Linked DNA regions of Homo sapiens: all the other regions are linked to region 2. Evidence: fine-mapped expression QTL. A gene starts in region 2. Each other region holds a variant in brackets. All regions are shown on one strand. Distances are from middle to middle.

What was found. PIP is the estimated chance that this variant, and not a neighbour inherited with it, causes the effect. A credible set is the group of variants that fine-mapping cannot tell apart.
Region 1: its variant is the best candidate, but not a certain one, in a credible set for the expression of IL13RA1 in whole blood (TOPMed, PIP 0.59).
Region 3: its variant is the best candidate, but not a certain one, in a credible set for the expression of IL13RA1 in esophagus mucosa (GTEx, PIP 0.52).

Annotation. Positions count from the first base shown.
Region 1 is chrX:118,549,735-118,552,234 of GRCh38, forward strand. All of the region lies in intron 6 of DOCK11 (dedicator of cytokinesis 11), which reads left to right. Among named protein-coding and RNA genes, the nearest start is that of DOCK11, 55 kb to the left of the region's middle. The variant A/G (reference allele first, on the strand shown) is at 966.
Region 2 is chrX:118,725,741-118,728,546 of GRCh38, forward strand. IL13RA1 (interleukin 13 receptor subunit alpha 1) reads left to right here and starts at 1,866. Exons shown (of 11, transcript NM_001560.3): 1 at 1,866-1,986. The coding sequence starts at 1,899. RefSeq lists a silencer at 1,475-1,904.
Region 3 is chrX:118,593,085-118,595,584 of GRCh38, forward strand. DOCK11 (dedicator of cytokinesis 11) reads left to right here. Exons shown (of 53, transcript NM_144658.4): 20 at 130-253. Among named protein-coding and RNA genes, the nearest start is that of DOCK11, 99 kb to the left of the region's middle. The variant C/T (reference allele first, on the strand shown) is at 1,294.

The DNA.
Region 1 (2,500 bases), 180 kb before region 2:
TTGTTTGTTTTTGATAGAGATGGGGTCTCCCTATGTTGTGCAGGCTGGTCTCAAACTCTTGGACTCAAGTGATCCTCCCACCTTGTCCTCCCAAAATTCTGAGATTACAGGCATCAGCCACCATGCCTGGCTACTACACAGCTTAAAAAAAGTTAATAGGAAATACTTTGAAATGCAAAGGCCATATTGAGGTTTGGGAGCTGTTTCTGGTTATGAGTTTCCTTTATCCCCACTCTTTTCCATTATAAATTATGAATCTCCATTTTGAATTTCAAACTCTTCTGATTTCATCTCCTGAGCCATAGCAGTAGTGTTGTATTTCAGAATTTGTCACAGCTAGAATGGGAATCAGAGGAAGGTTCAGCTAGAACCTTCTGAGGCATTTTGCCAAGATTACTTTTTCCTCTAATAATTGTATTTTGGGCCAGGCGTGGTAGTTCATGCCTATAATCCCAGCAGTTTGGGAAGCCAATATGGGAGGATCACTTGAACCCAGGAGTTTAAGACCAGCCTAGGCAACATAGCGAGACCCTGTCTCTACAAAAATGAACAAAATTAGCCATGTGAATTGGTGCTCCCCTGTAGTCCCAGGTACTTGGGACATTGAAGTAGGAGGATCACTTCAGCCTGGGAGGTCGAGGCTGTAGTGAGGCGAGATTGAGCCACTGCACTCCAGCCTGGGTGACAGAGTGACACCTTATCTCAAAAAAAAAAAGTGTTTTAACTGTTATTTAGTTCAACATTATTGAAATTAGTTGGAACTGCAGTGTTGACACATCATTTTTTCATGTTCTCTTTCTGTATCAATACAGGGCAAGTGAGTGTATGGGGCAGAGGATTGAAAAGGGGGAGCAGTTTTATAGTTTCCAGGCTAGAACTTGAAGTGAAGGCCAAAGCACAAGTCCAGGCCTATGAACAAAGGCACACTGGGAGAGTCTGGTTTGTACCTTTCAGTGCTCTGTTAC[A/G]GGGTGGGGGATCATATAAGTTCTTCCTGCATCACGTCTGGATTGTTTCAGGCATAGGAGGCTAAAGCTAAAGATGAGGTGAGCAGCTGACCCAGCTCTTGGATAATTGGAAAAGGCAGAGGCAGAAGAACTGAGACAAAGGGTTGACAGAGTTTGAGAGGAAAGTTTCTATGTATTTTTTTTCTACTATGGTAATGTTTGAAGTGAAGAATACTAATGAAGCTCATAAGCAAATGGGAAGATGACTCAGGTGTGCTATTATCTGAGTCATTTCCCCAATCCTGGAGGCAGGTTTATCCTTAGAGCATCTGGAGTTCCCTGCCCGCTAGGAACTCCAGCCCACACTGGTAAGAAGCATTGGTAGATTTAGCAACCAGCACCTCAGGGCCAGAGCTTGCAGAGTTGAGAGCAAAGAATCTTTTCTTTTTGGAAAATCCAAGCTTCGATAGCCCCTGCAAACTCATGGCAAACTAACTAGGAAGCAAGAGCAGATCTGGTTATTAACCATGACTCAGTGGCAAATAACAGCCTCCATAAGCCAAGCTTCTTCCCTGTGTTTTAGCTGAGCTTATTTGATGCCCTGTGGCTTGACACTGGCCTGCAGTTCCCTCTGGAATTGCTAGGGAATAAAAGCAAGGCATCTTGGTGCCTTTTAGAGAGAGGTGTACGTTTAAGCGTCTTTATTCATTAAGAAATTTCTAAATTTTAAAAATTATGTGCTGGGCATAGTGGCTCATGCCTGTAATCTTAGCACTTTGGGAGGCCAAGGCAGGAAGATGGCTTGAGTTTGGGAGTTCGAAACTAGCCTGGGCAACATAGCGAGCCCTGTCTCTTCAAAAAATAAAAAAATTAGCTGGGCATGGTGACGCATGCCTGTATTTGCAGCTACTTGAGAAGCTGAGGTGGGAGGATCGCTTGAGCCTGGGAGGTCAAAGCTACAGTGAGCTGTGATTGCATGACTGTACTCCAGTCTGACTGACAGAGCAATACTCGATCTCTTAAAAAAAAAATTACAGTCAGTTCTTTGGAAAGTTTGAAATTATGCGCAACTTTAAACTGATCTTAGAAATAGGTCTGAGTTGTTTTGCTGGACATTTTGACTGTTAGAAATAAAGGAATCTGCCCAGGCGTTCATGACCAGCCTGAGCAACATGACGAAACCTCGCCTCTACAAAAAATACAAAGGTAGTTAGCTAGGCGTGGTGGTGCACTCCTATAGTCCCAGCTACTCTGGAGGCTTAAGTGGGAGGATCACCTGAGTTTAAGAGGTGGAGGTTGCAGTGAGCCAAGATTGTGCCACTGCACTCCAGCCTGGGTGACAGAGCGACACTCTGTCTCAAAAAAAAAAAAAAAGGGAGGGAGGGAGGACTCTAATAGCAAGGAAGGGAGGAATCACATCGTGAGAGAAAGTGCAAAAATAAAACGAAGGAAAGAGTATTAGAAGAGACTCAGCAAAGTGCAGTTGATAAAAGGGAATTAGAAGATTCCAACTTTATAAGATCTTTTGAGAAAGCAACCACATGGCCTTTAATGCA
Region 2 (2,806 bases):
ATAAACATTATTTTGTTCGATAACACATGCAAGCCAGGATTTATTTTTTTTTTTTTTGAGAACGGGGTCTCACTCTGTTACAGACCCAGGCTGGTTTTGAACTCCTGGGCTCAGGTGATCCTTCCACCTCAGCCTCCAGAATAGCTGGGATTACAGGTGCATGCCACCATGCCTGGATTCTGGAATTTATTCTGAACCGTTAGCCAAAAGAATCAACATCCTGAGATTCAGCACAGGCAGGCCCTCCTCCTGGAAGCTTCCCTTGCTCCTTCCCTCCCAAAAGGTACCCTTTTTGTATCCCATAATTCCTTGTTCTTGCCCTTATCATTGCCCCTCAGACTGACTGCAGCTTTCTGTTAGCAGAGCTTGCTTTTGGTGAGTGTCTTCAACAGTTCCTGGAACAATTTCATAAATATTTATTGAGTTTGAGAGCCTTAATTCCAAGAGTGGAACCTTTGTTGTGAATAGGTTAAACAACCCTGTGCCCTTTGGGTGGGGTCTAGACTAGGTATATTATCAGCATTTTTATTGCTATACTTTTTGTAACTGTTTTCAGGTATATGCATTGGCTTAATTCGGCCAAAATACACCTCATTATGGGTCTCATCATCCACCTAGACATGATTCTTTTTTGGGAGAAGGTGATAGAATAATGTCCCCCTCCCATGATTCCATATCGTGATCCCCAACACCTGTGAATATGTTAACTTACATAGCAAAAATGACTTTTCAGTTATGATTAAATCAAGGATTTTGAGATGGGGAGATTATTATGAATTATCTGGTGGACCTAATCTAATCACAAGGGTATTTATAAGGGAAAAGGGGAAGTAAGAGGGTCAGAGTCAGATACGACAAGGGAAGCAGAGGTCTGAGTAGTTCCGCAACAAGCCAAGGAATGTGGGTAGCCTCTAGAAGCTGGAAAAGTCAAAGACACAGATTCTCCCCTAGAATATCCAGAAGGAATACATCTCTGCCCACACCTTGATTTAAGCTCAGTGTCACTTCTGACCTCCAGAACTGTAATAAAATAAAACTGTTAAATCACTAAATTTGTGGTCATTTTTGACAGCAGCAACAGGAAACGCCTAAGGACTCTTGTTTTCCTTCCTCCCAGCCTCACTGACCCTCATAGGCGCCCAAGTATCAATGTGTATTCTTCCGATTCACCTCCCATCCCTTTGAAAAATATGTAGAAAGTTTGTCGTGTGCTTTAAAAAATGCACGTATGGTATCCTCCCTCATGTTTGGAATGTTCCTTTTAAAATCAACATTATGTATTGCCAGCTTTCAAATATGCCCTTTGTCCTTTTCACAAAGCACAGTACTGCCAGTGTCCCCAACTCCACCCAGTGAAGTAGGGCTGGTATTACTAACCCTGGAGTCAGCGCTAGCAAACAAGGGCTCAGAGGTCAAGGGCTGGAAGCCAGGTCTCCAGACTCCCAGGCCAAGGCTCTTTTCCGCAGATGACTCTGTCCTGGTGTCCAGCAGGGCACAGCCCCTAGCACCTCCGAGGCCCCGCAAGTGTGCTGGCAGCGGCGACGCCGGCTCCGCCACGCGGAGGGAGGAGGCCCAGGCAGCGCCCGGAGTGGGCGGCGACGTGGTGGAAGAAGTTTTGTTCGGTCAGAGACCGGACGCGGGAGCTGCGGGTGGGCCAGGTGTCCAGCCTTGGGAGCCGTAGGAGCCGCCAGAGCCGCCAGAGCCGCCGGCGCCCCGCCCCGCCTCCTCCGGCCGCTCTCGCCGGCTCAGGTTACCTGAGGCCGGTGGGCGGGGCGGCCCTTCCCGTCTGCGCCGGCCCCCAGCCTCCAGGGCGGCGGAGCCGGGAAGTGGAAGAGGGAGCGAAGGAGGCGGGGACTGCCAAGGCTCCAGCCCGGCCGGGCTCCGAGGCGAGAGGCTGCATGGAGTGGCCGGCGCGGCTCTGCGGGCTGTGGGCGCTGCTGCTCTGCGCCGGCGGCGGGGGCGGGGGCGGGGGCGCCGCGCCTACGGGTGAGTGCGACCCTCGGGGCCCGAGGGGCGGCCGGAGGGCTGAGGGCGGTGAGGGTCACGGCTGAAAGGCCCCGGAGGTCAACGCCGGGCGGAGGGCCGAAGCTGGGGTGGGTGCTGGGGGCTGCCCTCGCGAGGCCCCGCGCTCGGCGGCTGCGGCTTCCCGCGCGGGATCTCTGGGGCCCGGTACTGGGGCCGGTTCGAGGTGGGACCCGGGAGCTGCGGGGTTTTCCCGAACTCCGGGTGCGGCGGAGGTGGCGGCAGCGAAGTAAGAGGGCTGCGACTTGTAGTGGGAAGAGCCCAGGAGGCTGGCGTCCAGGCGTGCGGGGGCGGGGGGCCCGAAACATGCCCACGGCGTCAGAGGGCCGTGGGTCAGCGCCCGGAATGTCGCCTGTGAGCCCGGGAGGAAATGAGGCGCCAGAGCCGGCGGGGACCACGACCGAAGTCCAGGCGAGCTGAGAACGCGCCGGGGCTCTTTGCCCGAGGCCGCGCCAATCCTCACTGTCTAAGGGTGGCTCTTGCGAGTGGAAGTTGAAGGGAACCTCTAAACATCTCAGTCCTTGTTGAAAAAGGACGTGACGCTCATGACCTCCTCTGGCGTCGAAGAAATCCTTTGGGAAATCCAGAATAGCATCCCGGCAGATGCTCCCCCCACCCCACTCTCTTTAATAAACCTTATATTTTAGGGTAATTGTAGATTTATGGAAAAGTTGCAAAGATACTTCAGAGAGTTGTGTATATCCCTCACCCTGTTTGGTAACTTCTAGTTAATCAACCTGGCAGTTGTGAAAAATTGGGAGTTAATGACTTCCTTAGGAGCAGC
Region 3 (2,500 bases), 130 kb before region 2:
CCTACTATTTGGCCACTTGGCCAGTCCTTTAGGAAGTATTTTTGGAGCAGTATGATGAAACTGAACTAATGTCTGACAGTTTCAGCTTGAGAAAACGAAGTTCCATGTGTAATTTTGCTTTCATTTCAGATTAAAATTGAGCTTCCCATTCACCTACATCAAAAACATCATTTGCTTTTCACTTTTTATCATGTAAGTTGTGAAATTAACACAAAGGGAACAACCAAAAAGCAAGACACAGTTGAAACTCCAGGTACGTGTTCTCTTTAAATGTCTCTCTCTACAGTTATTTGAAATGGAACTGTCCAGGGTATAACCTCTTTTCACCAAGCTATAGACCACTTCTCCCCTTGACCAAAAACCACTGTATTAGTTCATTTTCATGCTGCTGATAAAGACGTACCAGAGACTGGGAAGAAAAAGAAGTTTAATTGAACCTTACACTTCCACATGGCTGAGGAGGCCTCAGAATCATAGCAAGAGGTGAAAGGCACTTCTTGGCAGCAGCAAGAGAAAAATGAGGAAGAAGCAAAAGCAGAAACCCCTGATAAACCCACCAGATCTCGTGAGACTTATTCATTATCACAAGAATAGCACAGGAAAGAGCGGCCCCCATGATTCAATTACCTCCCCCTGGGTCCCTCCTACAACACCTGGGAATTCTGGGAGATACAATTCACATTGAGATTTGGGTTGGGACACAGCCAAACCATATCAAGCACATTTCTGATTTTAAAAGTTCATTGGTAAAATGCATATTATATGTTCATTTTAGTATTTCTACCAAATATCATTGTCCATATGCTTGCCAATGTGCTTAGACTACTATAAGCAACATAAAGTAATATTGCTATTCTCAAAAAGAAACACATATTGCGATACAGTATTTTTGTTATTTCTTTTATGTAGAATTGCCCAGCAACCAGAATTTTCCAGTTCTGCTCACTGAGGAAGAGGGAAGTGAGCCCAGAGCCAGGGACATCTGTGAGCCAGAGGGAGGTTGGGGGCTGACTAGTTCTAATGAGAAGATAACTGATTTAACAAACTTGAATAAGCTTCAGCAGTGAAGCTCTCGTCATGGGCCCATTCAGCAAGGCTTTACGTAAACCAATGGGTAGCACCCTTAGCAGAAATAGAAGGCCTTGTGAACACAGCTTGTATCACAAGCACTTTACGAACATCAGCATGTCCTAAGATTCAGATCCCAGCTAGTCTGTATTATTCACTCATTCATTCATTCAGCAAATATTTCTGCATACAGGTTGAGCATCCCAAATCCCCAAGTCCAAAATG[C/T]TCCAAAATTGGAAACTTTTTGAGCACTGACAAGATCTTCAAGGGAAATGCTTATTGGAACATTTCATATTTTGGATTTTTGGATTTGAGATATCAACTGGTATTATGCAAATATTCTGAAAAAATCTGAAAAAATCAGAAATTTGAAACACTTCTGTTCCTAAAAATTTCAGATAAGGGATACTCAAACTGTATTATGTACAAGATATTGTAGTAGGCACTTTGGAGAATACAGTGGAGAATCAAACACAGATCTCATCTTCAGTGAGGATATGATCTAGTAAGGGAAATGAGTCCTGCGTAAACAATTATAATACAAGATAGAAAGTGGTGTTTAAGAAAGTAGTGCTACGTGAACTCAGAAGAGCGAGTTATTCAGCTGGTGGAGAGACGAGTGGCTGAGAATCAGAGAAGGCTTCTAGGAGATGGTGTTTGAGTGAGGCCTTAAAGGGTTGGGTGGGGTTTGATAATGCAACAATGGCAGGAATGTAGGGGATTATGGGGTGAAGGAACAGCTTGTACAGAGGCAGAGTATCAAGAGGCATGGACAGGAAACCACAAGTAGTTCACTAAGCCTGGAGCACAGGGTGCTAGGAGGGGGATCATAGGATGTCAGGTTGAACAGGAGGCATCAGATTTTGGAAAGCCTTGAATACCAGGCTATAGATTTTATTTTATTCTATCACCACAGTAGAACTATTGGAGGGTTTTAAACATTAGAGCAGTTTTTCAGGAAAACCAACCAGGCAGCAGTATAATGGGCAAGGCAAGTAGAAGCAGGAAGAGGAAGAAAGGAACACCAGTTAGAGGGTTATTTCAAAAGTCCAGGAAAGGAAGAGGCCACACTATGGCAGTAGCAGCGGGGGCAGAGAGAAAGGGAAGTGCAGAAGAAGAACATATTGGACCTGGAAAGTGATTGGCTATTAGAGAGATGATTTAGTTAGCAATGAAGTTTCAAAACTGGGTGATTGGAAAGAAGGTATTGCCAATAGCAAAACTGTGGGTAGGGATGGCAGGTTTGGGACATCAGTTGAGTTTTAGGTGCTAGTGAGACATTGGAGTGATACCCAGCAGGCAGCAGGACTGAATATGAGGGAGTTCCCTTTGCAGGTAGTATGGATATGTTCTTTATCCCCATAGAAATTGCCGTTAGTTCAGGGTAGGGGCTTTGAGGATTGAGAAGAAAACTGGCAGAACGATGAGAACC